4 linked regions of the Homo sapiens genome follow. Changing the gene in region 2 together with the main gene of any one other region gives a genetic interaction. Each region holds a gene or a part of one and is shown on either strand. Other genes may lie near its edges. The genes, in order: SEC23IP, EIPR1, RPRD2 and CTCF.

Region 1 (7,036 bases), on a different chromosome or scaffold from region 2:
GTGTGAAAAAATCTTCAGATTTGGCAGGAGTTAGTGGTTGGTGGAATGGGACAGGGATGGAGCTCATCCCTCTCTCCTGTCCCTTCACCTTTGTCTCCTCTCCCCTGTGTCCTCTGCCCCCAGTAGATCACTTTGACTAGAGTGTGTGCAGTGGAGTGGCCTCAGTGATCTATGGGCCACATATGCCATACTCAGGAGGAGTTTGTAGTTCATCTTGTGGGGTGTTGGGGAGCCTTTGAAGGATTTTCAACAAGGCAGTGAAATTAGACGTGTGTTTCAGAAAGACTGGAGTTTTCTCTAGTCGCACTGGAATAAGGTTGACTGTAGCAAGAGGATTCAGTTGGGAGGCATAGTGAGAGGCTGGCAGTGGCTATGGCAGTCTAGCCTGAGTCAGCCACATTGGGTGTGAGGAGCAGGGAGCAGATGTGCGAGATGTGTGGACTATACAGTTGTAGAGACTCACAGAAGACCAGAGTGTCAGCTCTGTCTGTCAGAACAGAGGCCCATTTTTGTTTAGTTTTAGACCCAAGACTGAGCTCTGTACCTGGCACAGAATGCATCCTGAGTAAATATTTCTTGAATAAATATTTGAATGATTAAATGAAGGGTTTGAGAGAGAGGGAGGAGTCTCAGACTTGAGGTTTCTGGTTTGAATGTCTGAATGAATGTTGGCAAACATCTGTGGAGATTGTGAAATACAGAAAAGGGAGCATGGAGGTGGGTAGTTAAGATAAACTCCGTTTTAGGCTTACTAAGCATGAGGTATATGTGACTGAATCTGCCAAAAACATTGAGGAAGTAGTTGGAAAACAAGTTCTGGAACACACGAGAATGGTCTGGGCTTACGATGGAGTTGGGAGTGTCACAAATATACAAGTGCCTGTTAAAGTTGTGGCTTTAGATGACATGTGTCCAAATGAAATGAGAAAGTGCCCCTGAGGTGAGGGTAGCAGTATATGGAGAGCACTTCATTTGTAGTTGATGCTAATCAGAAAAAAAGTTTCTCGGACCAGGTTGACCTCAAGTTTTTCTAAAGGATGAAAGATACCACTGAGTTTTTTTTTTTTTCATTCTTTTAATTGTTGGGAATGAACTAAGAAATACAAATAAGTCCAAGTGAGGGTCACTGACCTGAAAAGAGGGGTGGGAGCTGGAAATATATCAGAGAAGTGGAATGATTCAAGTAGACACAAGGCCTTGTGCAGCAAGGGATATTTTATTTTTAGTTACAAAGAAACTACCAAAAGGAGTATTTTGAATGGTGGAGTATTTTAGTTAAACTGATGTGTGTAAATAATGAGAGCTCAAGAAGCTCAAGCCCTAGTCTCAGCAGAGGTCAAGAAGCTTGGAGCCCGGAGCTTGGAATAAGGCTGCCTGTTGGCAGGTCTCCAAGGGCAGGGACCGAAGTGTGCCTGTGTGCTGTGAGTGAGTCCAGCCCTCTGATGGATTCCATGCCTCCAGCAAGGAGGTAAGAGGGAATGAGGCAGGAGCAGGGAAGATTAGGAGGAGGAATATGAAAGCTACAAGCTAGGGAACATAAAAGTTTCGTAAGGAATAATAGTAACGTGGACTTTTGAGGTGATATACAGGGAAGATGCTTTTATTTTACAACTTGGTAGTAGAACAGAAGCTAAATTATTTGGAGTCGTTAATACCCACAGTGAACATCAAGTTGGGCAAAGGGATGGGAGATCTTCCCTTGGTTAGAAAGTGACCTTCTCAGCAATTTGGTATTCTGTAATGATAAGTCTGTGATAGTGCATGATTTTAGGGAATGGCAATTAATGGTTGACCTACTTGGGAATACAAATACCACGTGTTCATTTGTACAATAAGTGCTTTGTAGGTGAGATTCCTGACACACCCCTTCTTGTCAACAGAGTTATCTTTAGTCTCTTGTTATCACTATAGAAATAAAAATATATGTATTTGGGTAGTCGAGTAACAGTTGAATTATTTCTTACCAAGAAAAAAAGATAAAAAATAATATGTAAGGCTGGGCACGGGGGCTCATGCCCGTAATCCCAGCACTTTGGGAGGCCAAGGCAGGCAGATCACTTGAGGTCAGGAGTTCAAGACCAGCCTGGTCAACATGGTGAAACTTCATCTCTACTAAAAAAAAAAAATACAAAAATTAGCTGGGTGTGGTGGTGGGTGCCTGTAATCCCAGCTACTCGGGAGGCTGAGGCAGGAGAATGGCGTGAACCTGGGAGGCGGAGCTTGCAGTGAGCTGAGATTGCGCCACTGCACTCCAGCCTGGGCGACAGAGCGAGACGCCGTCTCAAAAAAAAATAAAAAAAAAAAAATAAATAAAAATAGTAAGTATAGATTTTGTTTCTATTTTTAAAAACATATACAAATATATATTTACAAAATAAATAACTATTTGTATTTATTTTAGAAGTATGGAAGGGTATGTAGCAAAATGTTAACAGTGTTAACAGCGTGATTGTCTCTGGCAGGTGGGCTTATGAATGAATTATAATTGTTTCCTCTTATGTTTTCTTATTCATGTTTTCTAGTTTTTCATTTCTAAGAAGCAAGTTTTCAAAGAAAAAAAGAAAAAACTGTTTTTTTCTGTAATGCAGAAATAGCAAGTTTGAAGAACAAATAAGGAAGTATAATTGCTAGCCCTTCCTTATAGAATCGTATCTGCGGAGTGATAGAGTACCCTTTAAACCACATGCTCTCCTGTTCCATTTCAGAGGATTCCACAGATGTTGGTGAGGAGGACAGCTTCCTTGGTCAGACTTCTATTCACACATCTGCCCCACAGACATTTAGTTACTTCTCTCAGGTATCAAGCAGCAGTGATCCTTTTGGGAATATTGGACAGTCACCATTAACAACTGCAGCAACCTCAGTTGGACAATCAGGATTCCCCAAGCCCCTGACTGCTCTCCCTTTTACAACTGGATCCCAAGATGTCTCGAATGCATTTTCACCATCCATTTCGAAGGCTCAACCTGGTGCTCCACCTTCCTCACTGATGGGAATAAATTCTTATCTGCCTTCTCAGCCAAGTAGTCTCCCTCCTTCATATTTTGGGAACCAACCCCAAGGAATTCCCCAACCAGGATACAATCCATATCGCCATACCCCTGGCAGCAGCAGGGCTAATCCTTACATTGCACCACCCCAGCTGCAGCAGTGCCAAACACCAGGCCCTCCTGCTCATCCTCCACCTTCTGGACCCCCTGTTCAGATGTACCAGATGCCTCCAGGATCTTTGCCACCGGTATGGAGACATGATTTTGTGTCCTACTTATTCACTCTGTGTCTTCTTTCTCACCTGAACCTATGTTTTAAAAAACATTTCACATCTTATAATCAATATGGTGACAAATTAGTTTCAGAGGGTATTCTTTGTAAGCTACATGAAGTAAACATTGTCTTAAAGATAGCTTATTGGATGGCTCATATTTTAGTGTATATTACCTGTTTATTGAAGCAGTAACTGATTTTAATGAGTTAGCTACGTGTCAGTATTTCCAGATTTTAGAGTACGGTAAAAATAAGTGTTGTCTAGAGACATAGGAGAATTGAAGCGGTTATTGTCTTAACAGACTGCTAGTTTCTCATCTTTCAATTACACTAGTCAATCAAAACACTCAATTACAGGGACTAAAATTGATTACTTCAGTAATTTCTTTATGGAGTTTGGATCTAGATCAGTCAAACTCTATCTAGGGAGAGTTGGTGGAATAACGTATGCATTGGGTAAATTTCATGAAATTCCCTTATGCATTTTTCCCAACTAATTGTTTATTTGATTTCCAAAGAAAAATCAACAGAATTAAACAAAAAGAGAAATGATTAAAAAGAATTAAGAACCCATTTCAGTGTGGTGGAGATAGCAGTATTGTGATCAGAATGTAACTAACTTCTCTGTTAGAGATAGAGAATGGACTCTGTTTTATCATTTCATTTAAATCATACCAATACACAAATTTTTGACAATGTTGGATTTCGGCATTCTGAAAAGTAACCAGATTCATAGCATGTGGTATATAGTTAGTATTTTTGCTAACTATAACAAACTAATTGTAGTTTGTTGCTTAAATTTTTAAAAAGGTTTTTAGATAAAAGTTTAAAAAATGATAATTTCAAACTTGAAGAAAAGTTGCAAAAATAAAAAGAGTACAAAGAGCACTCTAATATCCTTTACTCAGGTTTACTTATCATTAACATTTCATCCCGTTTGTTTTTTAATTTGTGCATGTGCACACCCTGGCATATGTGAGCCCTCCCTCTTCCCCCATCCCTTTCTCCTGCCCCTTCCTCCTGCTTCTCCTCCTGCCCCTCCCTCTTCCCTCCCTTCCCCTCATCGTTTTTTTCTCTTTCTGTATATATGCAATTTTGGGGGGAATATTTGAAGGTCAGTAAAATACATTATGATTCTTTACTCCTAAATTCCTGGTGTACATTTGCTAAGCATAAGGACATTCTTCTTATGTGCACAGTGCAGCTATGAATCTCAGGAAATTGAGTGTTGATGTAATACTTCAAAATGATTTTTTAGAAATTATATATGTGTATGTATATGTACGTGTGTGTGTATGTGTGTGTGTGTGTGTATATATATATATATAAAATTTTTTTTTTTGAGGCCAGGTCTTGCTCTGTCACTCAGGCTAGAGTGCAGTGGCATGGTAACGGCTCACTGTAGCCTCGAATTCTCAGGTTCAAGTGATCCCCCTACCTCAGCCTCACCAGTAGCTGGGACCACAGGCACATGCTGCCATACCTGGCTAATTTTTTTTTTATGTTTTGTAGAAATGAGGTCTCACTATGTTGCCCAGGCTGGTCACAAACTCCTGGGCTCAAGCAGTCCTCCTGCCTTGACCTCCCAAAGTTCTGGGATTATGGGCTAAATTATATATTTTTTTGAGACTGGGTCTCACTCTGTTGTCCAGGTTGGAATGCAGTGGCGCAATCACAGCTCACCTGCAGTCTCAAACTCCTGGGCCTCAAGTGATCTTCCTGCCTCAGCCTACCAAAGTGCTGGGATTACAGGTGTGAGCCACCACACCTGTCCCAAAATGGTGTCTAATTAAAAAATTTTAAAATAAGTCTAGTCTGATTTTAAAATCGTTTTTGTAGAAAATTTGAAAAATGCAGAATACTCAATTTAATAAAAAATGTCCATAGATAACCACTGTTTTCATTTTGTTATATGTCTTTTTTTGGCAAACATATAATACCTATGGTTTCTATAATCTATTTTTTTTTTGTGTGAACATACTTTAAATGTTACTAAGATTTTTTCTAAAACATTAAAATTTTTTTCTTTTTCTTCTTCTTTTTTTTTTTTTTAAAGAGTGGGGGGGGGGTCTTGCTCTGTCATCCAGGGTGGAGTGCAGTGGTGTGATTACAGCTCACTGCAACCTTGAACTACACTTCAGCCTCAGGAGTAGCTGGGACTACAAGTGTGCCCCACCATGTCCGTGTGATTTTTAGATTTTTTTGTAGAAACGGTATTGCTGTGTTGCTCATGTTGGGCTCAAACTCCTGGCCTCAAATGATCCTCCTTCCTTGGCCTCCCAAAGTTCTGGGATTATAGGTGTGAACCATCGTGTCTATCCTCTAAAACTTTTATTTTTGTTTATTTACTTATTTTTTTTTTTAGCTATCTCCTGCAGAAAGGATATAAGACATTTTTAATGGCGCTGGAGGATCTAGCATTTGAGTTAAATATTATTTAATCAGGTTTCTGTTAGACATTTTGATTATTTCCAGTGATTTCCTATTTTATTTATTTTTTTGCAAACATTCCAAATTTATTAGCTATGATTTTATAATCAACATTATTGAGGTATAATTTACATACAGTAAAAGGCATCCATTTACAGTATACAATTCGATTTATTTAAAGTGTACAATTAGCTGAGTTTTGACAGTTGTACACACCAATTTCCTATTTTAAATAACCTTTTGATGTATATCCTTGGGGATAACTTTTTATTTTTATTTTTTATTTATTGTTTGAGACAGAGTCTCTGTCACTCAGGCTGGAGTGCAGTGGTGCAGTCTCAGCTCACTGCAACCTCCGCCTCCCGGGTTCAAGCGATTCTCCTGCCTCAGCCTCCCAAGTAGCTGGGATTGCAGGCCTGTGCCACCACGCCCAGCTAATTTTTGTATTTTTAGTGGAGACAGGGTTTCACCATGTTGGCCCGGCTTGTCTCGAACTCCTGACCTTAGGTGATCCACCCACCTCAGCCTCCCAAAGTGGCAGGATTACAGGTGTGAGCCACTGCACCTGGGCTATTTGTTTTTATAATTCTATCTTTAGGATAAATTTTTAGAAATGGAATGAGTAGGTCAAGGAGTAGGCACATTTTAAAGGTTAAATAGGCCGGGTGTGGTGGCTCACACCTGTAATCCCAACACTTTGAGAGGTCAAGGCGGGCTGGTCACTTGAGGTTGGGAGTTCGCAACCAGCCTGACCAACCTGGAGAAACCCTGTCTCTACTAAAAATACAAAATTAGCTGAGTGTGGTGGCGCATGCCTGTAATCCCAGCTACTTGGGAGGCTGAGGCAGGAGAATCGCTTGAACTCGGGAGACGGAGGCTGTGCATTGCGCCGTTGCACTCCAGGCTGGGCAAGAAGAGCAAACTCCGCCTCACACACACAAAAAAGGTTAAATAAATCATGGGAGATGTATTGCTAGATTGATTTCTGTAAAGGTGTTAGTTTACTTTGTGTTCTGTGAGAAGGTCTGGTTCACCTTGTAATTGATTTTTTTCTAAATTTTTTAATTTTTAATTTTTGTGGGTACATAGTAGGTATATATGTTTATGGGTTACATGAGATATTTTGATACAGGCATGCAATGTGTAATCATCACATCAGGATAAATGGGGTATAGATATCCCTCACCTCAAGCATTTATCCTTGATTTGGGGTTTTGTTAGGTTTAAAAATTCTTCTTAAAATTGCTTTGGGGTCTAGTTATTACACTAAGTAATTGTCCAGATATACATGTAGGATAATCTACTAACATCAGTTTGGGTGTGAAGCATATTCAGAATTCTT
Region 2 (7,036 bases):
CACTGACTTCCACAATGGTTGAACTAGTTTACAGTCCCACCAACAGTGTAAAAGTGTTCCTATTTCTCCACATCCTCTCCAGCACCTGTTGTTTCCTGACTTTTTAATGATTGCCATTCTAACTGGTGTGAGATGGTATCTCATTGTGGTTTTGATTTGCATTTCTCTGATGGCCAGTGATGATGAGCATTTTTTCATGTGTCTTTTGGCTGCATAAATGTCTTCTTTTGAGAAGTGTCTGCTCATATCCTTTGCCCACTTTTTGATGGGGTTTTTTGTTTTTTTCTTGTAAATTTGTTTGAGTTCATTGTAGATTCTGGATATTAGCCCTTTGTCAGATGAGCAGGTTGTGAAAATTTTCTCCCATTTTGTAGGTTGCCTGTTCACTCTGTTGGTAGTTTCTTTTGCTGTACAGAAGCTCTTTAGTTTAATGAGATCCCATTTGTCAATTTTGGCTTTTGTTGGCATTGCTTTTGGTGTTTTAGACATGAAGTCCTTGCCCATGCCTATGTCCTGAATGGTAATGCCTAGGTTTTCTTCTAGGGTTCTTATGGTTTTAGGTCTAACGTTTAAGTCTTTATTCCATCTTGAATTAATTTTTGTATAAGGTGTAAGGAAGGGATCCAGTTTCAGCTTTCTACATATGGCTAGCCAGTTTTCCCAGCACCATTTATTAAATAGGGAATCCTTTCCCCATTGCTTGTTTTTGTCAGGTTTGTCAAAGATCAGATAGTTGTAGATATGCGGCATTATTTCTGAGGGCTCTGTTCTGTTCCATTGATCTGTATCTCTGTTTTGGTACCAGTAACATGCTGTTTTGGTTACTGTAGCCTTGTAGTATAGTTTGAAGTCAGGTAGCGTGATGCCTCCAGCTTTGTTCTTTTGGCTTAGGATTGACTTGGCGATGAGGGCTCTTTTTTGGTTCCATATGAACTTTAAAGTAGTTTTTTCTAATTCTGTGAAGAAAGTCATTGGTAGCTTGATGGGGATGGCATTGAATCTATAAATTACCTTGGGCAGTATGGCCATTTTCACGATATTGATTCTTCCTACCCATGAGCATGGAATGTTCTTCCATTTGTTTGTATTCTCTTCTATTTCATTGAGCAGTGGTTTGTAGTTCTCCTTGAAGAGGTCCTTCATGTGCCTTGCAAGTTGGATTCCTAGGTATTTTATTCTCTTTGAAGCAATTGTGAATGGGAGTTCACTTATGATTTGGCTCTCTGTTTGTCTGTTATTGGTGTATAAGAATGCTTGTGATTTTTGTACATTGATTTTGTATCCTGAGACTTTGCTGAAGTTGCTTATCAGCTTAAGGAGATTTTGGGCTGAGACAATGGGGTTTTCTAGATATACAATCATGTCGTCTGCAAACAGGGACAATTTGACTTCCTCTTTTCCTAATCGAATAGCCTTTATTTCCTTCTGCCTAATTGCCCTGGCCAGAACTTCCAACACTATGTTGAATAGGAGTGGTGAGAGAGGGCATCCCTGTCTTGTGCCAGTTTTCAAAGGGAATGCTTCCAGTTTTTGCCCATTCAGTATGATATTGGCTGTGGGTTTGTCATAGATAGCTCTTATTATTTTGAGATACTTCCCATCAATACCTAATTTATTGAGAGTTTTTAGCATGAAGCGTTGTTGAATTTTGTCAAAGGCCTTTTCTGCATCTATTGAGATAATCATATGGTTTTTGTCTTTGGTTCTGTTTATATGCTGGATTACATTTATTGATTTGCGTAGATTGAACCAGCCTTGTATCCCAGGGATGAAGCCCGCTTGATCATGGTGGATAAGCTTTTTGATGTGCTGCTGGATTCAGTTTGCCAGTATTTTATTGAGGATTTTTGCATCAATGTTCATCAAGGATATTGGTCTAAAATTCTCTTTTTTGGTTGTGTCTCTGCCCGGCTTTGGTATCAGGATGATGCTGGCCTAATAAAATGAGTTAGGGAGGATTCCCTCTTTTTCTATTGATTGGAATAGTTTCAGAAGGAATGGTACCAGTTCCTCCTTATACCTCTGGTAGAATTCGGCTGTGAATCCATCTGGTCCTGGACTCTTTTTGGTTGGTAAGCTATTGATTATTGCCACAATTTCAGATCCTATTATTGGTCTATTCAGAGATTCAACTTCTTCCTGGTTTAGTCTTGGGAGAGTGTATGTGTTGAGGAATTTATCCATTTCTTCTAGATTTTCTAGTTTATTTGCGTAGAGGTGTTGGTAGTATTCTCTGATGGTAGTTTGTATTTCTGTGGGATTGGTGGTGATATCCCCTTCGTCATTTTTTATTGCGTCTATTTGATTCTTCTCTTTTTTTCTTTATTAGTCTTGCTAGCGGTCTATCAATTTTGTTGATCCTTTCAAAAAACCAGCTCCTGGATTCATTAATTTTTTGAAGGGTTTTTTGTGTCTCTATTTCCTTCAGTTCTGCTCTGATTTTAGTTATTTCTTGCCTTCTGCTAGCTTTTGAATGTGTTTGCTCTTGCTTTTCTAGTTCTTTTAATTGTGATGTTAGGTGTCAATTTTGGATCTTTCCTGCTTTCTCTTGTGGGCATTTAGTGCTATAAATTTCCCTCTACACACTGCTTTGAATGTGTCCCAGAGATTCTGGTATGTTGTGTCTTTGTTCTCATTGGTTTCAAAGAACATCTTTATTTCTGCCTTCATTTCATTATGTACCCAGTAGTCATTCAGGAGCAGGTTGTTCAGTTTCCATGTAGTTGAGCGGTTTTGAATGAGTTTCTTAATCCTGAGTTCTAGTTTGATTGCACTGTTGTCTGAGAGATAGTTTGTTATAATTTCTGTTCTTTTACATTTGCTGAGGAGAGCTTTACTTCCAACTATGTGGTCAATTTTGGAATAGGTGTGGCGTGGTGCTGAAAAAAATGTATATTCTGTTGATTTGGGGTGGGGAGTTCTGTAGATATCTATTAGGTCCGCTTGGTGCAGAGCTGAGTTCAATTCCTGGGTATCCTTTTTAACTTTCTGTGTCGTTGATCTGTCTAATGTTGACAGTGGGGTGTTAAAGTCTCCCATTATTATTGTGTGGGAGTCTAAGTCTCTTTGTAGGTCACTCAGGACTTACTTTATGAATCTGGGTGCTCCTGTATTGGGTGCATATATATTTAGGATAGTTAGCTCTTGTTGTTGAATTGATCCCTTTACCCTTAAGTAATGGGCTTCTTTGTCTCTTTTGATCTTTGTTGGTTTAAAGTGTGTTTTATCAGAGACTAGGATTGCAACCCCTGCCTTTTTTTGTTTTCCATTTGCTTGGTAGATCTTCCTCCATCCTTTTATTTTGAGCCTATGTGTGTCTCTGCACGTGAGATGGGCTTCCTGAATACAGCACACTGATGGGTCTTGACTCTTTATCCAATTTGCCAGTCTGTGTCTTTTAATTGGAGCATTTAGTGCATTTACATTTAAGGTTAATATTATGTGTGAATTTGATCCTGTCATGCTGTTAGCTGGTTATTTTGCTTGTTAGTTGATGCAGTTTCTTCCTAATGTCGATGGTCTTTACATTTTGGCATGAGTTTGCAGCGGCTGGTACGGTTATGCCTTTCCATGTTTAGTGCTTCCTTCAGGAGCTCTTTTAGGGCAGGCCTGGTGGTGGCAAAACCTCTCAGCATTTGCTTGTCTGTAAAGTATTTTATTTCTCCTTCACTTATGAAGCTTAATTTGGCTGGATATGAAATTCTGGGTTGAAAATTATTTTCTTTAAGAATGTTGAATATTGGCCCCTACTCTCTCCTGGCTTGTAGAGTTTCTGCCGAGAGATCCGCTGTTAGTCTGATGGGCTTCCCTTTGTGGGTAACCCGACCTTTCTCTCTGGCTGCGCTTAACATTTTTTCCTTCATTTCAACTTTGGTGAATCTGACAATTATGTGTCTTGGAGTTGCTCTTCTCGAGGAGTATCTTTGTGGCATTCTCTGTATTTCCTGAATCTGAATGTTGGCTTGCCTTGCTAGATTGGGGAAGTTCTCCTGGATAATATCCTGCAGAGTGTTTTCCAACTTGGTTCCATTCTCCCCATCACTTTCAGGTACACCAATCAGGTGCAGATTTGGTCTTTTCACATAGTCCCATATTTCTTGGAGGCTTTGTTCATTTCTTTTTATTCTTTTTTCTCTAAACTTCCCTTCTCGCTTCATTTCATTCATTTCATCTTCCATCACTGATACCCTTTCTTCCAGTTGATCGCATCGGCTCCTGAGGCTTCTGCATTCTTCACATAGTTCTCGAGCCTTGGCTTTCAGCTCCATCAGCTCCTTTAAGCACTTCTCTGTATTGGTTATTCTAGTTATACATTCGTCTAAATTTTTTTCAAAGTTTTCAACTTCTTTGCCTTTGGTTTGAATTTCCTCCTGTAGCTCGGAGTAGTTTGATCGTCTGAAGCCTTCTTCTCTCAACTCGTCAAAGTCATTCTCCGTCCAGCTTTGTTCCGTTGCTGGTGAGGGACTGCGTTCCTTTGGAGGAGGAGAAGCGCTCTGCTTTTTAGAGTTTCCAGTTTTTCTGCTCTGTTTTTTCCCCATCTTTGTGGTTTTATCTACTTTTGGTCTTTGATGATGATGATGTACAGATGGGTTTTTGGTTGGATGTCCTTTCTGTTTGTTAGTTTTCCTTCTAACAGACAGGACCCTCAGCTGCAGGTCTGTTGGAGTTTGCTAGAGGTCCACTCCAGACCCTGTTTGCCTGGGTATCAGCAGCGGTGTCTGCAGAACCGCGGATTTTCGTGATCCGCGAATGTTGCTGTATGATCGTTCCTCTGGAAGTTTTGTCTCAGAGGAGTACCCGGCCGTGTGAGGTGTCAGTCTGCCCCTACGGGGGGGGTGCCTCCCAGTTAGGCTGCTCGGGGGTCAGGGGTCAAGGACCCACTTGAGGAGGCAGTCTGCCCGTTCTCAGATCTCCAGCTGCGTGCTGGGAGAACCACTGCTCTCTTCAAAGCTGTCAGACAGGGACATTTAAGTCTGCAGAGGTTACTGCTGTCTTTTTGTTTGTCTGTGCCCTGCCCCCAGAGGTGGAGCCTACAGAGGCAGGCAGGCCTCCTTGAGCTGTGGTGCGCTCCACCCAGTTCGAGCTTCCCGGCTGCTTTGTTTACCTAAGCAATCCTGGGCAATGGCGGGCGCCCCTCCCCCAGCCTCGCTGCCACCTTGCAGTTTGATCTCAGACTGCTGTGCTAGCAATCAGCGAGACTCCGTGGGCATAGGACCCTCCGAGCCAGGTGTGGGATATAATCTCCTGGTGCGCTGTTTCCTAAGCCCGTCGGAAAAGCGCAGTATTTGGGTGGGAGTGGCTCAATTTTCCAGGTGTTGTCTGTCACCCCTTTCCTTGACCAGGAAAGGGAACTCCCTGACCCCTTGCACTTCCCGAGTGAGGCAATGCCTCGCCCTGCTTCGGCTTGCGCACGGTTCGCTGCACCCACTGACCTGCGCCCACTGTCTGGCACTCCCTAGTGAGATGAACCCGGTACCTCATATGGAAATGCAGAAATCACCCGTCTTCTGCGTTGCTCACGCTGGGAGCTCTAGACCGGAGCTGTTCCTAGTCGGCCATCTTGGCTCCTCCCTGAAATATTATTTTCTGAGGTTTGAAAAATGAATGAAATTGATTCTCTAAGGTAGTCAAATATATTATTGGATTTTCTTCTTTATCTTAAAAGAAGTAGCTGACTTTTGCTACTTGGATTTTATCGGATAGTATCATGGACCAAGACTTTCTTAAGTTTGAAGAACCATCATTGCAGTAAACAAGAAAACTGAAAAGGATAGTGTTTTTTTTTGTTTGTTTGTCAGTGACATTCAAATCCCATGGAGAACACTTTACATGAAAGGATAGAGATCTGATCGTTGACCGCTGAGTGAAGGTAATGACACTTGAAAGATAAAGGGCAGTACTGCAACTGCAAATAAAAGACCAACACGGAGGGTCGTTAAGATCGCAAAATGCTGAGCAAATTCATGGTAATGATTCTGGATTTTTTTATAATTATATTTGAAATGCATGAAATTTCAAATGATATTTGAAATGCTTTTGCACACTTTTAGTTTACTGCTCAGTAGAAATCCATTTTCTCAATATGAGTTTAATGAATACTTGTCAGTTAACACAACAGTAGTTCTTTGTGACTATCTCAAAGTGCATACAAACAGTATGACTTCTCTCCTGCAATCATGTTTCTTTGAACTTTTGACATTAATAGATCTTCTTTGTTGTGTGGGTCAAATCTCCATGTGGCAAACTTGCCTTGTGATGGGAACAGTGAACCTCTAGGCAGTGGTGGCTCTGCCCATGTGTAGGTCTGGGGGCAGGCATGTGACTAAGATGGACCAGCGGCAAGCAGGGCCTGCAGGTGTGGGCAGAGTGAGGGCTACATCTGCCAACTCCTATTTGAGCCCACTGCTGCCAAGTGAGCTGGGCCAGACCAGAAAGGACGGTCGGGGTGGGAAGGTGGGTGACAATGATGACTTGGGCTTGTTTCAAGTTGCTTTCCCTTCGGTTTACCACCAAAACCAGGAAGCAAGCAGGGCAGGTTGTAAGCCACACAAGGATATGCGTGCCTCCTTTCTGTTCTGGGAGGTTCTCCTGGAGTCCTGAGATCAGTGCAGTCAGGTCAGAGGGGCAAAGAGACTGTGGGCTTTTGGCTTTTTGTGCCATCAGTCTGAGGGACAGATGGACCAGGCCAGCGCTTCAGGGTCTGCCTGTTGCCAAGTGAGGAAAGACTTTTGAAATGGAAGATGGAGATTAAATTTTCTTTTCTTTTTTCTTTTTTTGAGACAGAGTCGCTCTGTCACCCGGGCTGGAGTGCAGTGGCGCGATCTCAACTCACTGCAAGCTCCGCCTCCCGGGTTCACGCCATTCTCCTGCCTCAGCCTCCTGAGTAGCTGGGTCTACAGGCGCCTGCCACCGCGCCTGGCTAATTTTTTGTATTTTTAGAGAGGGGGTTTCAGGGTGTTAGCCAGGATGGTCTCGATCTCCTGACCTTGTGATCCGTCTGCCTTGGCCTCCCAAAGTGCTGGGATTACAGGTGTGA
Region 3 (7,036 bases), on a different chromosome or scaffold from region 2:
TATAGGCATGAGCCACCATGCCTGGTGGTCATTATCCTTTTTTTTATTTTAGACAGAATTTCACTCTTGTCGCCCAGGCTGGAGTGCAGTGGCCCAATCTCAGCTCACTGCAACCTCAGCCTCCCAAGTAGCTAGGATTACAGGTGCCCACCACCACATCCAGCTAATTTTTGTATTTTTAGTAGAGACGGAGTTTTGCTATGTTGGCCAGGCTGGTCTCGAACTCCTGACCTCAGGCAGTCCACCCACCTCAGCCTCCCAAAGTGCTAGGATTACAGGCGTGAGCCACTGCGCCCCTCCTATTTTTTTTATATTTATCATCTATGAGCTGACATCTGAAGAATTATAAAATGTGAAAGCTGAAAGAGACTAAGTATTATCTAGTCTAATCCCTTACTTTTCAGGTAAGGAAACTAAGGCTCAGTAAGGTGAAAAGATCTGCTTATGGTCACATACCTATCTGTCTATTCAGTATGAGCCAAGACTGAAGGCCAGATTTCTTGACTGGAGTTCAGTATTCTTTCACCTACACCATGACACCCTAGGGGCTGCATTAGTCCCAGCTTTTAATACAGGTTTATATATGTTGAGTTTTATTAATTTCAGTGTTAACCAAAGCTGAAGACAGTAGGAAGGGTCCATTTATTATCAAAAAATATGGCCAGGTGCAGTTGCTCACGCCTGTAATCCCGGCACTTTGGGAGGCTGAGGCGGGCAGATCACCTAAGGTCAGCAGTTCAAGACCAGCCTGGCCAACCAGGTGAAATAACATCTCTACTAAAAATATGAAAATTAGCCAGGTGTGGTGACACACACCTGTAGTGTGCTGAGATCGCAGTAAGCCGGAATCACGCTACTGCACTCCAGCCTGGACGACAGAGCAAGACTCAGTCCAAAAAAAAAAAAAAAAAAAAAAATTTTTTTATGACGCTTCAAGAACATAGTGAAACCCTGTCTCTACAACGGAATTAAAAATTAGCGCCGGGCGCGGTGGCTCACGCCTGTAATCCCAGCACTTTGGGAGGCTGAGGCAGGCGGATCATGAGTTCAGGAGATCGATACCATCCTGGCTAACACAGTGAAACCCCGACTCTACTAAAAATACAAAAAATTAGCCGGGCGTGGTGGCGGGCACCTGTAGTCTTGGCTACTTGGAAGGCTGAGGCAGGAGAATGGTGTGAACCCAGGAGGTGGAGGTTGCAGTGAGCCAAGATTGCCCCACTACACTCCAGCCTGGGCAAAAGAGCAAGACTCTGTCTCAAAAAAAAAAAAAAAAAAAAAATTAGCTGGGCATAGTGGTGCATGCCTGTAGTTCCAGCTACTCAGGGGGCTAAGGCAGGAGGATCACTTGAGCCCAGGAGTTCAAGGCTGCAGTACGCTGTGGTCACCCCACTGTACTCCAACCTAAGTGATGAGACCCTGCCTCAAAAAAAAAAAAAAAAAAATTTCTGAGACATGAATATATCTTTTTTTGTCCTAATGTTTTATAGAGGCTTCATTATTTATTATTTTATTTATTATTTTATTAGAGTCTTAGATGTAGTATTTTTGTTTTCACCTACCTATAATCTCTCTCATTTGACCCTTTCTGTTCAGCTTTACTAATTATGTTTTGTGCATGACACTGCCTGTTTCTAACCTTTTTTCATAAATCTTTCCTACTCTCTACTCTCTTATGCTCCAGATACCAATGAAATCCTTTTTAAGTACCGTAGTATAATTATGAAATGAATTACAAATACCAGGGCAATATATTCAGTGTAGTGATTTACTCTATATCAGTAGTCTCAACCAAAGGCCTCCAGGGAGGACACTTGGCAATATTTGGAGACCTTTTTAGTTGTCTCAACTGGGGTAATGGTAGGGGTGCTACTGCCTCTAGTGAGTAGAGGCCAGGAGGATGCTCCTAAATATCCTACAATGTGTGAGACAGCCCCAACAATAAAGAATTATCTAGCCCAAAGTGTCAGTAGTGCTGAGGTTGAGAAACCCTGCTCTCTATCAAAGGAGTGGTGTAAAACAGTTTCCTAAACTGTTATGTAAGTGGATCATTCAAGCATATTATAGTGAACTTTGTCTGGAGGTGCAGAAGAATTTTGTTACACAGAACTAAATAGTATTAAGTAATAATCCACAGCCCCTATCTATTGGCATCAGCAATAAAGAATTGATGATGACTGCAGCACATGTTGTACTACTAATATCAGGGACAATTTGAGAGTTTGACATGTTTATGCTTTCTCCCTTTTTATTTTTATTTGTTTGTTTGTTTTTGAGACGGGGACTTGCTCTGTTGCCCAGGCTGGAGTGCAGTGGTGTGATCTCGGCTCACTGCAACCTCTGCCTCTCGGGTTCAAGTGATTCTCTTGCCTCAGCCTCTCGAGTAGCTGGTATTACAGGCTCACACCACCATGCCCGGCTAATTTTTGTATTTTTAGTAGACACGGGGTTTCGCCATGTTGGCCAGGCTGGTCTCGAACTCCTGACCTCACGTGATCCACCTGCCTCGACCTCCCAAAGTGCTGGGATTACAGGTGTGAACCACCGTGCCTGGCCGATGTGAAATTTCTGATGAGGCAAAATTTGAACAGAACTAGGTTCCTTATGGAATGTGGAATTCTCTTTGACTTTTAAAAGGATTGTATCTAGCAAGTTAAATAGATGTATTTCCTCGAAGACTGTTAATGAAATCCCAGAACTTTGTTCTGATTGTGTCATCCACAGCCCTAGGTATTGACAGATTTATAACACAAAAGAGAGACTTCAGGCCCGGTGTGGTGGGTCACACCTGTAATTCCAGCACTTTGGGGACGGGTGGATCACCTGAGGTCAGGAGTTCAAGACCAGCCTGGCCAACAGGGTAAACCTGTCTTTCCAAAAAAAAATACAAAAAAATTAGCTGGGCGTGGTGGCTCACAGCTGTAACCCCAACTACTTGGGAGGCTGAGGTAGGAGAATCGCTTGAACCCGGAAGGCAGAGGTTGCAGTGAGCCAGCCTGGGCGACGAGCAAAACTCTGTCTCAAAAAAAGAGAAACTTCAGTGGGCAAAGGAGCAGAGTATGACTTGTTATGATTAAAGAGCAAACTTTTGGCTGGGCGCAGTGGCTCATGCCTGTAATCCTAACACTTTGGGAGGCCACGATGGGAGGATCACTTGAGGCCAGGAGTTTGAGACCAGCCTGGTCAATATAGCAAAACCCCTATCTCTATTGTTTTTAAGAATTTTTAAAAATAATTAAAAAAAAAAAAGATTGGAGAACAGTAATATTTAGTGGTGAGAGACAATTTTACCTATTACCAGAAATCTGAGTAGTATATCTATCTTAAAAAGATGTTCTTTTGAAGAAGTTATCCCAAAATATCTGAAAAATATGCTGAAATATCTTCTAAAAATCATATTACATTATTATATATCACATTCTAGTGTTTGAGGACTTCTGGGTTTTGTGAGAACAGTGATTACTAAGAATTAAATCAGGCTGGGCATGGTGGCTCACGCCTGTAATCTCAGCACTTTGGGAGGCTGAAGTGGGACAATCACTTGAGCCCAAGATTTTGAGATCAGCCTGCGCAACATGGTGAGACCTTGTCTCTACTAAAAATAAAAAAGTTAGCTGGGCATAGTGATGTACACCTGTGGTCCCAGCTACTCAGGAAGCTAAGGCAGATAAATCTTTTGAGCCCAAGAGGTTGAGGTTACAGTGAGCTATGATCGCACCACTGCACTCCAGCCTGGGTGACAGAGCAAGAGCCTGTCTCTTGAAAAAAAAAAAGGAAACTATTAGTAGGGATGAATTATGTGGCTAGGGAACTTTTTTTGGAATGAAACATGCCGATTTTTTTTTTTCTTCAGAAGGATCATAACTAAAGTAAACATTATTTCAGTTGTTTGGATATTACTGAATATTGGATAACAATAAAGACCATCCAACATTATTTAGAAATAAATGGCTTTAAAATGTTACAAGGATGGAGGGGACTTGAAATTCTTTAGGCCAAATCTGTTAGAATATGGGTTAAAATTGAAATTTTGAAGAAATGTTAATTGAAATATCACATGAAGTATTTTCTTTAATCATATAATTACTAAGGAACAATGTTAGTGTATTCAGTGACTAAAAGCTATAAATTTGGGTGAAATGTATATTAAAAATTTTTTTAATTAATTTATTTTTAAATACAGAGACTCACTTTGCCACCCAGGCTGGTGTGCAGTGGCAGAGTCATAGTTAGTTTACTGTAACCTTGAACTGGGCACAAGTGATTCTCCAGCCTCAGCCTCCTGAGTAGCTAGGACTACAGGCATGCACCATCATGCCCAGCTGATTTTTAAATTTTTTTTAGAGACAGAGTCTCTCTGTGTTTCCCAGGCTGGTCTCAAACTCCTGGCCTCAAGCCATCCTCCTGCCTCTGCTGCCCAAAATGCTAGGATTACAGGCATGAGCCACCGTGCCCAGCCAAAAGTCTTCATTTGTGACCAGAAATTGGGTAAATTTTTAAAAATATGATTGAATTTATAGAACCTTCTGTTATCTTTTTGTCAAATATTTTTCTAAAAAATTTTCTACAGGAGCAGTTTGCTTTGTTGAACTTCAGCCTTTGCCCCAAAGAATTCTTTCTCAGTGCTTCTGAGAAAGTTTTGACTGTCAGTGAACACAGTTAAATTCCATCATTGTCAATCTGGACTAAATAATCCTTGGATTTTCCACACTATAAAATGGGGATTGTGTGTTTTCTTGTGAAAGGACCAGTGTCCCTGGTGGTCTGTCTTTGTAAGTCTTTGTGGTGTATGTTTGTTATAGCTACATTTTACAACCAAAACGGATGGTTGAAAGCATTGTTTTTCAAAAAGTAACAACAGTCTACCAAGAGGTGCTTCTTGAAAAAGGTGTTTGCTGTTCAGATAAGTTTCTGAAATTTGCATTTGCCTGTCTCCCGCTTGAAAATAACAATGTATATTAACTTATTAGAGATAATAAGTTTGAAGGTTGAAGGTTGGTTTGAAGGTTGGACAGGAAAGGTAGAACAGATCTGTTTGCATTTAGAGAAACACTTCCACAGATCAAACATTAAGAAATACTGGCTTAAAGTGTTGTTTTAAGAATAACTTTGCCTCCTTTCTTTTCCTGCTTTGCCTAACTTAAACTATGAATGATTCTGACATTAAAATCTCCCCCTTCCTGTTGCCTTTTATTGTGCCATGTTGGGCTGATTTCTGGACTGTACTGGAAACATTTCAGTGATTTGCTCTTTATTGATAAAATAGGCCCTGTATTTTCTGTGACATTTAGCCATTGCTTGTTTGGTCTGGATTCCTTTTGGCCTTACACTTTGTCTATCTGGTTCCCACCAAAATGAATGAGAGTATCTGATTAGCCTACATTGTTTGCATTGTATGATAGGGAGTTGTTCTTTTTAACCCCTCTAATCTTTGTTTCTACAGGCCTGTCATCTTTACTTCAGAGTGTTACTGGGAACCCAGTTCCAGCCAGTGAAGCTGCCTCACAGAGCACTTCAGCCTCCCCTGCCAACACCACAGTCTCTACCATAAAGGGAAGAAATCTGCCCTCCAGTGCCCAACCTTTTATTCCCAAAAGCTTCAACTATTCTCCTAACTCATCAACTTCTGAAGTCTCTTCAACTTCAGCCAGCAAGGCCTCAATTGGGCAAAGCCCAGGGCTCCCAAGCACTACTTTTAAACTACCTTCCAACTCTTTGGGGTTTACAGCTACCCACAATACTAGCCCTGCTGCCCCACCTACTGAAGTTACCATCTGCCAATCTTCAGAGGTCTCCAAGCCAAAGCTGGAGTCAGAGTCCACCTCCCCAAGCCTGGAAATGAAGATTCACAACTTCTTAAAAGGTAATCCTGGTTTCAGTGGCTTAAACTTAAACATCCCAATCCTGAGCAGTTTGGGGTCCAGCGCCCCATCAGAGAGCCATCCCTCAGACTTCCAGCGTGGCCCTACTAGCACCTCAATCGACAACATTGATGGAACCCCTGTACGGGATGAACGGAGTGGGACACCCACCCAGGATGAGATGATGGACAAGCCCACATCCAGCAGTGTAGATACTATGTCCCTGCTTTCTAAGATCATTAGCCCTGGTTCCTCAACACCCAGCAGTACAAGATCACCACCCCCTGGGAGAGATGAAAGCTACCCCCGAGAGCTCTCCAATTCTGTATCTACATATCGACCCTTTGGTCTGGGCAGTGAATCTCCCTATAAGCAGCCTTCTGATGGAATGGAGAGACCATCTTCCCTGATGGACTCTTCACAGGAAAAGTTCTACCCAGATACTTCTTTCCAAGAAGATGAGGATTACCGAGATTTTGAGTATTCAGGGCCTCCACCCTCTGCCATGATGAACCTAGAGAAGAAACCAGCCAAATCTATCCTGAAATCAAGCAAGCTGTCTGATACCACCGAGTACCAGCCAATTCTGTCCAGTTATAGCCACAGAGCCCAAGAATTTGGGGTAAAGTCTGCCTTCCCTCCATCTGTAAGGGCCCTCCTGGACTCTAGTGAGAACTGTGACCGTCTCTCATCTTCCCCTGGGCTATTTGGTGCCTTCAGCGTAAGAGGGAATGAACCTGGGTCTGACCGGTCACCATCACCGAGTAAGAATGATTCATTTTTCACCCCTGACTCCAACCACAATAGCTTGTCTCAATCTACCACTGGGCATCTCAGTTTGCCACAGAAGCAGTACCCAGACTCTCCTCACCCAGTCCCACATCGTTCCCTTTTCTCTCCGCAGAACACCCTTGCCGCTCCCACGGGTCACCCACCCACGTCAGGCGTGGAGAAAGTCCTGGCCTCCACCATTTCCACCACGTCGACGATTGAATTTAAGAATATGCTTAAAAACGCCTCACGTAAGCCCTCAGATGATAAGCATTTTGGCCAGGCTCCCAGCAAGGGCACTCCAAGTGATGGTGTCAGTCTCTCAAACCTCACCCAACCCAGCTTGACCGCCACTGATCAGCAGCAACAAGAAGAGCACTACCGCATAGAAACCCGCGTCTCCT
Region 4 (4,188 bases), on a different chromosome or scaffold from region 2:
TCTTGTGGCCCAGGCTGGAGTGCAGTGGCGGATCTCAGCTCACCGCAACCTCCGCCTCCCAGGTTCAAGTGATTCTTCTGCCTCAGCCTCCCGAGTAGCTGGGATTACAGGTATGCGCCACCACGCCCAGCTAATTTTATATTTTTAGTAGAGTCAGGGTTTCTCCATGTTGGACAGGCTGGTCTCAAACTCCCAACCTCAGGTGATACACCCACCTCAGCCTCCCAAAGTACTGGGATTACAGGTGTGAGCCACCACGCCCAGCTGCCAGTTTCTTATTTCTTGTAGAGATAAGGTCTCACTATGTTACCCAAGCTGGTCTTGAACTCCTGAACATGAGTGATCCTCCAACCTCAGCCTCCCAACGTGCTGGGATTACAAGTGTGAACCACCGTGCCCAGCCTTAAATTGATTTTTCTTAATAATTGGCTGAGCATGCTGGCTCACACCTGTAATCCCAGCACTTTGGGAGGCCGAAGCAGGCAGATTGCCTGAGGTCAGGAGTTTGAGACCAGCCTGGCCAACATGGCGAAACCCCATCTCTACAAAAAATACAAAGATTATCTGGATTGGCTGGGCACGTTGGCTCATGCCTGTAATCCCAGCACATTGGGAGGCCGAGGCAGGTGGATCACCTGAGGTCAGGAATTCAAGACCAGCCTGACCAATATGGTGAAACCCCATCTCTACTAAAAATACAAAAATCAGCCAGGTGTGGTGGCGTATGCCTGTAGTCACAGCTACTCAGGAGGCTGAGACAGGAGAATTAAACCCAGGTTGCAGAGGTTGCAGTGAGCTGAGATCGTGCCGCTGCATTCCAGCCTGGGCGACAGAGTGAGACTCTGTCTCAAAAAAAAAAAAAGAAGGAAAAAAAAATTACCTGGGCATGGTGGTGCGTGCCTGTAGTCCCGGCCACTCAGGAGGCTGAGCCACGAGAATTGCTTGAATCTGGGAGGCAGAGATTGCAGTGAGCCGAGATCGCGCCACTGCACTCCAGCCTGGGCAATAGAGTGAGACTGTCTCAAAAAAAAAAAAAGAAAGAAAGTGTATATATATATATATATATATTTATAAAACAAGACTTCAAATAATATATAATTGTTTTCTTTCATCTTCCACCACCCTTCTCCTTGCCCCACCACCTGTGCTTCCTGATTTCATGAAAAGAAAATGCTGAACCAGATCTGGACGACAATGAGGATGAGGAGGAGCCTGCCGTAGAAATTGAACCTGAGCCAGAGCCTCAGCCTGTGACCCCAGCCCCACCACCCGCCAAGAAGCGGAGAGGACGACCCCCTGGCAGAACCAACCAGCCCAAACAGAACCAGCGTAAGTTGTTCATCTCTGCTCTGGAGGCTGGCGTCTTCTCCGAGCATGTGGGGGAGCCAGATGGGTCCTTGTTCTTTGGGGATGTGGGAACTAAGCCATGAGAACAAGTTAAGGGCATGTCGAGAACAAACTCTCAGGAAATGGCTTTTTAGGAGTTTTTACTGAGGAACATCTGAGGAAGTCTTTAGAGGCCTGTTACATTTCAAGAAGAAGTCCAGAGTAGAAGGGTACTTGTGTTCTGCAAGATGGGTACTGTTAATGTGGGCGGGTTTTGAAAAACAACCAAAGTCACAGTCAGCTGGCAGAATGGATGCGGTAATGAATATAAAAGAGCCAAATCGTAAAGGTTGGAGAGGGAAAGCAGTTTCTGCACTGAGATTGCCCCTTCTAAGAAACTCAGGGTCAGGCGGTGGCTCATGCCTGTGATCCCAGCACTTTGGGGGGCCAAGGCGGGAGGATCACCTGAGGTCAGTAGTTCCATACCAGCCTGGTCAACATGGTGAAACCCCATCTCTGCTAAAAATACAAAAATTAGCCAGGCGTAGGGGTGGGCACCTGTAGTCCCATCTACTCAGGAGGCTGAGGCAGGAGAATTGCTTTAACCCGGGGGGCAGAGGTTGCAGTGAGCTGAGATCATGCCCGTGCACTCCAGCCTGGTCATAGAGCAAGACTCCGTCTCAAAAAATAAAATAAAAAATAAATTGACTGTCTCTGGACCGCTATCTAATAAGGCTGTCCTGCATTGCTGACATCCCGTTCGCTGTCAGTCTAAAAGACCCTTGTGATTCTTGGGGCTTTAATGGACCATTTGTTCTGTCTGTGCTCTTCTTTGCCAGCAACAGCTATCATTCAGGTTGAAGACCAGAATACAGGTGCAATTGAGAACATTATAGTTGAAGTAAAAAAAGAGCCAGATGCTGAGCCCGCAGAGGGAGAGGAAGAGGAGGCCCAGCCAGCTGCCACAGATGCCCCCAACGGAGACCTCACGCCCGAGATGATCCTCAGCATGATGGACCGGTGATGGCGGAGCCTTGTGCGTCGCCAGGACTTCTCTGGGCTGTGTTTAAACGGCCCGCATCTTAATTTTTCTCCCTTCTTTCTTTTTTTGGCTTTGGGAAAAGCATCATTTTACCAAACATACCGAGAACGAAAACTTCAAGGATGATGTTAGAAAAAAATGTGATTTAACTAGAACTTGCTGTCTGATGTTAGCAAATCATGGAATGTTCTGAGTCCCTGAGGGTTTACTGTGAAGTGCTGAGGACAGTGTTGACAACTAACTCGTTTTCCTAGATGGAAACGGAGACATTGACCCCTCCCTCCATGTGGTAAACCACTCCAGAATGGCCACCAGGCTTCCCAGAGTTCTATGGTCTTCTTCCCAAGAGAGTTTTTAATTGTAAATGCATACTTGGGAAGGACTTAGAGTTTTAAACTGTTTTTTGCTTTTGCTTTTCCCTGACTCCCTTTGCTTGGAGTCAGCTGCACACCAGTAGTATGGCATGCTACGATCAGGTTCTGTCCTGAAAGCTTTGCCTCTTTCTTGGCAAAGTTTCTGGTATGGTCAAGCTTGTAAATAACTTTTTTTACATTTTAATCTTTTCCATTAATTAAGAGGTTGAAAAGAAGTGCAGTGTAAGAAAACCCAGCATTTTAATTACTTGCAAATTAAGTTACCACAGACTCTGTAGTGTGTAAATGTTGACAAGGAATTGGATCACAATCATGTAGCAGAATGGCACCCAGACCACTGCCCACCAGTGACGGACATGCACGTGGCAGATCATGATTTCCAGCCCACGGAGCCAGCATTTGAACCTTGTATAATTAACTTTCAGTTATGATTTCCCATCGACATTTTCTTTGCCCTGTTTGTAGCTGATTGTTGTGTTTTATAAATCTTCTGTTAAGGCAGAAGGGTGATTATGAGTGGTTCACAGCAGCCCTTATAAGCTGGGCCAGAAAATTTCACTAGGTCAGTAATTTAAACCTTGGATCTTCAAAAAATAAAATAATGTGAAGCAAAACCAACTAAAAAGTGATTCTTGCACATGAACTGTCACATGTTTAAAAATGTGTTTTTTAGAGAGCCTCAGTCTTACTGATTTCAAACACTTTTTTCTTCTGTGTATTGCTTTTAAGAGAGCCATCAGTTAGCTATCAGACTCTAGGTTGATGCATTTTGTACTTAGCTGTACTGTGTGATATTTTTCATTATTTTAGGACGCCAACATGAGACCTGTAATAAAATATGTAATGGGGTTGAAAGCTGGGGAGGAGGATCTACTGCTGTACAGCTAATAAATCATAACGGATTAACAAGTGCTCCAAAGACTCCATCTTGCGTGATTCCTGCCTGCTTGAGGGAGGCTGGGGGGCTGCATACATGGTTCCAGGCTGTGCAGGCTGCTGCCTTTCACAGGCAACCTCTGTTCCCTGGGATGGTACTTTCTCTAGCAGATGGGACGATATGATCTTGGCGGGTGACTGGATATTGAGCGCATCCTGCTGTAACTGTTTTTTTGTTTTGTTTTGTTTTGTTTTGTTTTGTTTGAGATGGAGTCTCGCTCTGTTGCCCAGGCTGGAGTGCAGTGGCGCAATCTCAGCTCACTGCAACCTCCACCTCCCAGGTTCACGCCATTCTCCTGCCTCAACCTCCCGAGTAGCTGGGACTACAGGCGCCTGCCACCATGCCTGGCCAATTTTTTGTATTTTTAGTAGAGACTGGGTTTCACTGTGTTAGCCAGGATGGTCTCGATCTCCTGACCTTGTAATCCGCCTGCCTAGGCCTCCCAAAGTGCTGGGATTACAGGCGTGAGCCACCACACCCGGCCCCTGCTGTAACTTCTTAACTCCCCA

Evidence for each region.
Region 1: changes in EIPR1 (region 2) and SEC23IP are lethal when combined (synthetic lethality), as found in Homo sapiens cells (one study listed by BioGRID).
Region 3: changes in EIPR1 (region 2) and RPRD2 are lethal when combined (synthetic lethality), as found in Homo sapiens cells (one study listed by BioGRID).
Region 4: changes in EIPR1 (region 2) and CTCF are lethal when combined (synthetic lethality), as found in Homo sapiens cells (one study listed by BioGRID).

Annotation. Positions count from the first base shown.
Region 1 is NC_000010.11:119,895,722-119,902,757, forward strand, and holds part of SEC23IP (SEC23-interacting protein), read left to right. Parts: intron 1-2,705; coding exon 2,706-3,238; intron 3,239-7,036. UniProt on the Homo sapiens protein: Plays a role in the organization of endoplasmic reticulum exit sites. Specifically binds to phosphatidylinositol 3-phosphate (PI(3)P), phosphatidylinositol 4-phosphate (PI(4)P) and phosphatidylinositol 5-phosphate (PI(5)P).
Region 2 is NC_000002.12:3,367,783-3,374,818, reverse strand, and holds part of EIPR1 (EARP and GARP complex-interacting protein 1), read left to right. Parts: intron 1-7,036. UniProt on the Homo sapiens protein: Acts as a component of endosomal retrieval machinery that is involved in protein transport from early endosomes to either recycling endosomes or the trans-Golgi network.
Region 3 is NC_000001.11:150,465,118-150,472,153, forward strand, and holds part of RPRD2 (regulation of nuclear pre-mRNA domain-containing protein 2), read left to right. Parts: intron 1-5,443; coding exon 5,444-7,036.
Region 4 is NC_000016.10:67,635,523-67,639,710, forward strand, and holds the end of CTCF (transcriptional repressor CTCF), read left to right. Parts: intron 1-1,167; coding exon 1,168-1,329; intron 1,330-2,165; coding exon 2,166-2,350; 3' UTR 2,351-3,655; downstream 3,656-4,188.